Homo sapiens: one gene and its partner. The protein of the gene in region 1 purifies or fractionates together with the protein of each later gene. This does not show direct contact. Each region holds a gene or a part of one and is shown in the gene's direction. Other genes may lie near its edges.

Region 1 (3,651 bases):
GCAGTACCCGGGCCGAAAAGCGGGGGGGCGTGGGCGGCATCTGTGACGCTCCCCAGGTTCGCGGCGGGTCCCTCTGAGCCTAGTGGCTTTGCAGCCTGCGGGGAGCACGAATCCTCGGCTCCTTAGAGGTGGGCCTTCCAGAAGCCTTTGGCGCCTGGACCAGCCCAGGGCTCAAGTGGGGCCTCCACACTCTCAGAGCGGGAGGGCCCCCCACAGGCACCCCTGGAGCAGAGCGCAGCACACCTGGTGCTCTATAAATGCCGGCTCCCGCGACCAGACCCAGAGCCTATGGGATCAGCTGGAGGGGAGGGAAGGGGCAGCCCACTGAGCTGCAGAAGCCCTGCAGCTCCCCACCCCTGCCAGGAACCCCTTCCATCAGGAGAGCAATGTGGGGAGAGACCAGGCTCACCCACCTCCTTATAGACGCCAGTCCTTTCCAGGAGGGAGAAAGAGCCACGGGTCACTCACTTTAGGGTGAATTAGCTTTTCTCATGGGGGTTAAGATTTGCACAAAGGCAGTCAGGACTGTGGGGGCTGTCCTTGCCTCCCCCACACACCTGCTAGAGACAGCCCGCTGGAGGCAGAGAGATTTTGGTCCAATGACTGGGGACTGTTAGAAGAATCCAGGAGCAACTCTACTGTGACCCAGTTTCCCTTGAGTCATGGGCCTAAAATCTGCTTTGCAAAACATGGCAGATGCGGCTGAAAACTGACCACAAGCCTCTTAGCTTTCTGTTGAGGAGTCCAGATCTGTGCTATCAGCCAAGTGCCTAGCATAGGCTGCCTGCCTGTCCCCAGCAGCGACGAGGGCAGCAAGAGGGGCTCGTTCTCCCCACACCCCACTGCCTGTGATAGCTTCAGACAGCCAGGATATGGGGGGCAGGGAAACAGGTGCAGTCGGCGGCGCCTGCAGGATGCAGGCATGGCCCTGTCTGAGTGACACCTTCAGCCCAGAGCACTCAACCAAAAAGCTATTCTCCTCCCACCAACAGCTCGGGCCTTCCAAATGACAGCTCCTGCCCACCCTCGACAGGGAGCTCACTCCTGAGTGACTGGCAGAGGCAGCACTGGCACAGATAGCTACAGGCGAGGGCGTCGCCCCAGGCTCCGTATAGCACGGAGCTTCCCGGTATCAGCATAGTAATGGCGAGGGGGAACCCAGAGCGCCAGGGACATGGAGCTGCTGAATCCACAGAAACGAGGTGGGGGGCACACCTGGACCCAGGTGGAAAGTGGCTGGGTGGTGTTAGTCTAACCCACAATTTCACCTGACATCTCTACCCGAGGCATGGGCTCAGCTGGTCGGGGGCAGTCCTTAGGAGGTCTGGCATCCAGGGGGCAGAGCCCAGAGGCAAGACCTTCAAGGAGGGGGCAGAGCCAGTGCCTCACCACTGAGGAGCACCTCGAGAGGGGGCCGGGTGGCCGCGGGGGGAGAGCGGCATTTGCAGGGGCAACGTGTGGCCAGAGTCCCCTCACACACACGAGGCTGGTCCAGGAGCACCCCTGCAACGCTGAGGGCTATAAGTGGCCATGGAGGAGCCTGGCCGCTCTGCCAAGTCACCTCCCTCAGTGACACCTGTGTGCTGGGTCCAGCCAGCTTGCTCTGCTCTCTGGAGCTGCCGAGGGCCAGGGCTCCCCGCAGTGCCTGCTGTATTCAGAGCCCGTAATTATGCATATCTGTCCTGTGGGCTGAGTTGCAGAGCTGTTTAGGGAGGTGTTTGTGGGGCCTGTGAATCAGCAGCTCATGAGAAAAGTAGTGACTAGCACCGCAGAGCAATTAGGGCCTGGGTGCCAGTAACAAGCGGTCCCCTGCAGCCCCAGCAGGGCCCCTGCCAACCCCCATGCCAGCTCCTGCCCCAGCAGGGCCCCTGCCAGCCCCCATGCCAGCTTCTGCCCCAGGGGTCAGACTTGGTGACCTTGCCTCTGACAGCCAGCCCTGCCCCTCAACCCACTGCCTGCATAGATGGCTGAACCGCACCACCTCCAGGAGGCCAGGCCTCTGCTGGACACATGACCAGAGAAGACGCTTCAACCCCTGGAAGCTCACACACAACTGCACGCGCAACCACAAGACGACAAGCCTGATCACACAACCGCATGCAGTCAACCACACACACATGCACAACCACACAGCCAGGCATGCATATGACACAAACACAGAACCACATACAGATGTACGACCACGTGGTGCACACACAAACACAACCACAACAGCCACACGTACGCATAAGCACGCAGTCACACACAGGTGCATACAGACGCGCAACCACAGCGCCACTCTCCCTCCCCCCACGGAGTTGCCTGTGTCTCTTGAGGAACAGAAAGCAAAGCAGGAGACCCCAGCACACTGGATGGAGGGTCCCGGGCAGGAGGGTCAGGGCCAGATGGAGGTGGGAGGAGCGGCTGGAGGGTGGTGGGGGCAGCCAGAGGGTCGAGTGGATGGAGGGTTTGGGGGGTCGGCCAGAAGGTGGGGGAGTGTGGCTGAGACACTAGCCCGGCCCTGGACATCTGAATGGGGCGGTCTGAATCACCAACTTCTGTACCAGGGGCCACCAAGGACATGGGGAAGATGCTGGGGGGTGACGAGGAGAAGGACCCAGACGCCGCCAAGAAGGAGGAGGAGCGGCAGGAGGCGCTGCGCCAGGCGGAGGAGGAGCGCAAGGCCAAGTACGCCAAGATGGAGGCGGAGCGCGAGGCCGTGCGCCAGGGCATCCGAGACAAGGTGCGCGCCGGGCCGGCCCCGCCTGCGGGAAGGCGGCCCTGAGTCCAGCGGGGACCCAGATCCCGCCTGGGTGGAAGGGGCTGCCCGGAAGAGGGGCGGGCGTCCCCCTGGGCCTCCTACCCTTTGGGGGCTTCAGAGTGGCGGAGGGGTGAGGGGTGGGGGCTCCGGGTTGGGCTCCCTCTGTGGGGCCCAGCCCCTCCTGCTCCTGACCACAGCGCCAGCCCTGGCGGGCTTCCTAGGCCCGCATTCCGATGCGCAGCCCTGCGTGGAGCCTGGCTGGCTGCCTGGGGCCCTGGGCCGAGGGGTCGTGGGGCGGCCACCTGGCATGGGGGGTGCGCTCTCAGGTGAGCCCGGCCTGGAGTGAGGACTCAGGGAGGGGGGCACCCACTGGGATTCACGAGGCGGCCCAGAGTGGCTGCCAGCACCAGGACAGCCACGCAAGGTCACTCCCACTCAGCCCGGTCCCCTCAGCGGCCAGGTCCGAGGGGCACGAGGCACAGGGAGCAGCCTGGGTCCCGACAGCCGCTCCGGCTTCCTCGGTGGCTCCAGCACGGCCCTGGCTGGAAGCCGGGTGGGCACAGACATCAGCCTGGAGGAGTCTCCAGCCAGGGGTGAGCGGGCATGGTGGGAGATGTTCACATCCCACGTAGAAGGGGCCTGGGGTGCTGCCTGGGGCGCAGTGCTCACCCCGTGCCCTGGCCCCGAGGGTAGGGGCCGCAGCAGGCCCAGCAGGCCGGAAGCTGTGTTTCCCAGAAGGTGGCCTCAGTCCCCTGCCCTGGATGGGCCAAGATGGCCTGGCTTCGGGGTGGGAAGGTTCAGACTCCCGGGACCCCTCCCTGCTGCCGGCGGCACCTGGAGCAGGTGGAGAAGCCGTTTCCTGGCCTTGTGTCAGCCGCACCCAGGGAAGGGTGGGCTTCACGGGGTGTTGT
Region 2 (3,651 bases), on another chromosome or scaffold:
TATATTTTCTTGCCTTTATTCATGTTATTTTTTCCTGGAATGCCTTTCAAACTGACAGCATTCAGAGATCACCTCAGGAATCCTTCCCACATCTAAATTTGGTATTTTCATTGTACCATGTGTGTCTCTATCATATCATAATGTTTAAGGCTTGCTGTAATTGTCTAGTCTGGACTTTTTGAGGGCCTCTTATTTTTCTGTCTCCTACTTAAACAATATTTTTGACACAGCTGCCTGGGTGTGTGTTTAAATTTTTTTTCTATTTAATAATGTTTTTTATTTGTGTTGTAGAATGCCAGAGGACTTGGATCTGAGCTAAAGGACAGTATTCCAGTTACTGAACTTTCAGCAAGTGGACCTTTTGAAAGTCATGATCTTCTTCGGAAAGGGTATATGGGGGAGTTATGACTTTGATTTTGTTATGTTTCTGTGAATTTTCACAATATTCTTTAAGTATTTTGATAGGCTATACATGTGTATTTAGTTGGCAGATGGCAAGTAATATACCTTACATGGGGTGCAGAGGGGAAGAGGCTTAGATATTTTCTGTAGTGGAAGAGGTGTCTCATCAAAGTAGTAGGTTCCCAATTAGAGCATCCTCCTAGGCAGTGGTGCCCATTAGCATGATTTGGTAGGATTCTTTTTATTTATTTTTTTGCTACTGATAACTTAGCCATTTGCCTTCTTGTCTTAACTATTAGGGTAATTCACTTTTCTTTGGGAGGCACTAGAACATAGCAGTTGAGAGATTAAACTCTGGATTCAGTCGGCCTGGGTTTGGATCGTGGCTCTGCTCTTTACTAGATGTGTGCCTTTGGACAAATCACATAATTAATGTCTCAGTGTCCTTATGGATAGAATAGGCCTAATAATAGTCTGTATCTTCTTTTGAGGAATAAATGAGTTAATACCTGAAAAATATTTTAAATGGTACCTGACATTAGAAGCACTCAGTATGTATTGGCTACCATTTTTTTTCTTTTCTAGCTTTAGCATGCAGTTACGCCATGTTTTTGATTTCCTTTTTGTTTCTGTATGTTTAGGTCTCAGTTTCTGGTACTAGACCATACTCTTTGCAGGTCACTTTTCTGCTTAATAAAATAAGGATAACGACCTTTCCCCCATAAACATTTTGTGTTTTGAATTTTTGAATTTTACATCTAATTTTAAAGTATTTACTCTTATTTTTTGTTTATTTATTTATTTTTTGAGATGGCATTTTCCTCTTGTTGCCCAGGCTGGAGTGCAATGGCGCGATCTCCCCTCATCGCAGCCTCCGCCTCCCGGGTTCAAGTGATTCTCCTGCCTCAGCCTCTTGAGTAGCTGGGATTACAGGCATGTGCCACCATGCCCGGCTAATTTTGTATTTTTAGTAGAGACGGGGTTTCTCTGTGTTGGTCAGGCTGGCCTTGAACTCCTGACCTCCAGTGATCCGTACACCTTGGCCTCCCAGAGTGCTGGGATTACAGGTGTGAGCCACTGCGTCTGGCCGTAATTTACTCTTACTATAATAGAATGGCATTCTAATGCTGGTGTCTGAGTACAAATATAATCCCTCATTACAGACTTTCAGTTTTGTAGTAAAAAAATGCAGCATATAGCCTGTGAAATTGGAGATATAATTTGATATTTATAATCAAGTTGATTGGCTAGGCAGTAACTAAGGTCTGAAGATTTTTTTCCCCCCACATGAAATGTTCCTTCTTCTTCCTGATTGGACTGGGGCAGGACCATTTTCAAAACCCACTTCCTGGATAATGTTTTGTAAAAAGACAATATTCAATAAACAATTGTTGCAGGGTTTCTAAGGTTTTTATTAGCTTTAAAATCCTAGTTTGGATAATAAGGTAGTCATCTTTATATAGCTAGAGTGATAAAGACCAGTGGCCTGGTTCTAGTTGTGCCTTACCTAACATACTTTATACATAGTAGGTGTTCAGTAAATGTTAAACCTATTGTTCAACATGTTTATTAAAGATATATTAAATATTGAAAGTGTTAGACCTGAAGGGAATAGGCTTAGTTTATATAGTGCAAGAAGTACCTCATCAGAGTAATAGCAATAAACATACATTCATTAAATTTCTTCTAGATGTGGCACCAGATTTTGGCAAGTTTTCCCTAGTGATTGAAGTCTTGACCACCAATGTCTATAATGGATACATTCTTACATTATTATATATACCTTTTTTTTTCCTTTTGGTGTGTAGGTCTATGAATTTTTAGCACATGTATCAATTCCTATGACTGTCACCACAGTCAAGATACAGAACAGTTTTGTCACCCCAAAAAACTCTCTCATGCCATCCCTTTATAGATATGATTTTGAGCTCTGGGTATTGAGTGATATTTAATCTCCTCTAAATGTTTTTTTTTTAATGTCCTTTCAGTTTTTCTTGTGTGAAAAATGAACTTTTGCCTAGTCATCCCCTTGAATTATCAGAAAAAAATGTAAGTATATTATTATGTCCTTATTTTTATCTTCTAATAGATAAATACTTTTACTAATATTGGTTTCATTTTATTAAAACAATTTTGGTACTGAGGATTTGCCCATGAAGAATATGAGGCGTTATTTTCAAACCCCTTGTAGGATAGACTTAAAAATTACACTGCTCCTCTAAAGCTCCCTTTCTATGCGTTCTTACCTGCCTTTTTAATGTACGTCTCCAAAGGGTGATCCACTTCTCCATTCCTCTCACAGGAATTTTCTCTTTCAATAATGCTGTTTCTTTTATATTTTTCCTGCCATTTTTGCTGTTGACTTCCAAGTTCATATCTCTAGTTTTGACCTCTTTAAGTCCTGCATCTCCGAGTTACTGTAGGACACAGCCACTAGGCACAGTAGGTACTTCGATGAATATGACATCATCCCCATCCTTAAATAACTTAAAATTTAATGAGGAAGACAAGCAGTGGGTAGGAGAAGGCTTCGTAAAATGCTAGAGAAGACCAAGGATGTGACAGCCACCTGTGCTTAGGGCTTTTTTGGAAGGCTTTATAGAAGAGGAGGGACCTTTGAACAGTTTTAGACCAGAAAGTTTACTCCTAAAGAGAGGATAGCATGTATACATGTCCAAAACACAATTTAAAGGATTCTTAAATAAACATTTAGAGGAAGAAGAAAAAGGTTTCTGACTACTTGGGGAAGATGATGCAGTTGTTAGGTAACAGAAAACTGATCTGTATTTTGTTTTTGTTGTTTGTTTGTTTCGCTTTCTAATAAGAGGATAGGTCTGCCTATAAGAAAGAGTAGAACAAATAATGTAATTATGAAATTGAAGTTCAAATTAGATGAGAAAAATAAAAAAATTCCTCATCGATTTAAGTGAATTCAGGTTTCAGGTGCAGAAGTTGACAGCCCAGAGTACACTTATAAGTATGTGAGTATGATTATAAAAGCACAGTTGATCATCTTTGAGAACTAATGGGAGAAATGAAAATTGGTTATAGATGGATACATATTCCACTTTTGTATAAAGGATCTAACTAAAAAATAAGATTGTCTGTGGTAACATTGATCCCTGAAACTGTTTCTTAAGTGGACTATTGAGTGAGCTGTGAGCATTTAATAGGGTAAGCAGTGATCATCAGCATCTGAATGAACTCAGCAAATTAATTTTAGTTCACTCTTTTACTCAGTTGCCAAAT

The links. Proteins that work in one complex are often made in the same cells at the same time.
Region 2: the proteins of CPLX1 (region 1) and POMP fractionate together in Homo sapiens (co-fractionation; one large-scale study listed by BioGRID). This does not show direct contact.

Annotation. Positions count from the first base shown.
Region 1 is NC_000004.12:791,504-795,154, reverse strand, and holds part of CPLX1 (complexin-1), read left to right. Parts: intron 1-2,546; coding exon 2,547-2,722; intron 2,723-3,651. UniProt on the Homo sapiens protein: Positively regulates a late step in exocytosis of various cytoplasmic vesicles, such as synaptic vesicles and other secretory vesicles.
Region 2 is NC_000013.11:28,662,119-28,665,769, forward strand, and holds part of POMP (proteasome maturation protein), read left to right. Parts: intron 1-291; coding exon 292-389; intron 390-2,390; coding exon 2,391-2,451; intron 2,452-3,651. UniProt on the Homo sapiens protein: Molecular chaperone essential for the assembly of standard proteasomes and immunoproteasomes. Degraded after completion of proteasome maturation. Mediates the association of 20S preproteasome with the endoplasmic reticulum.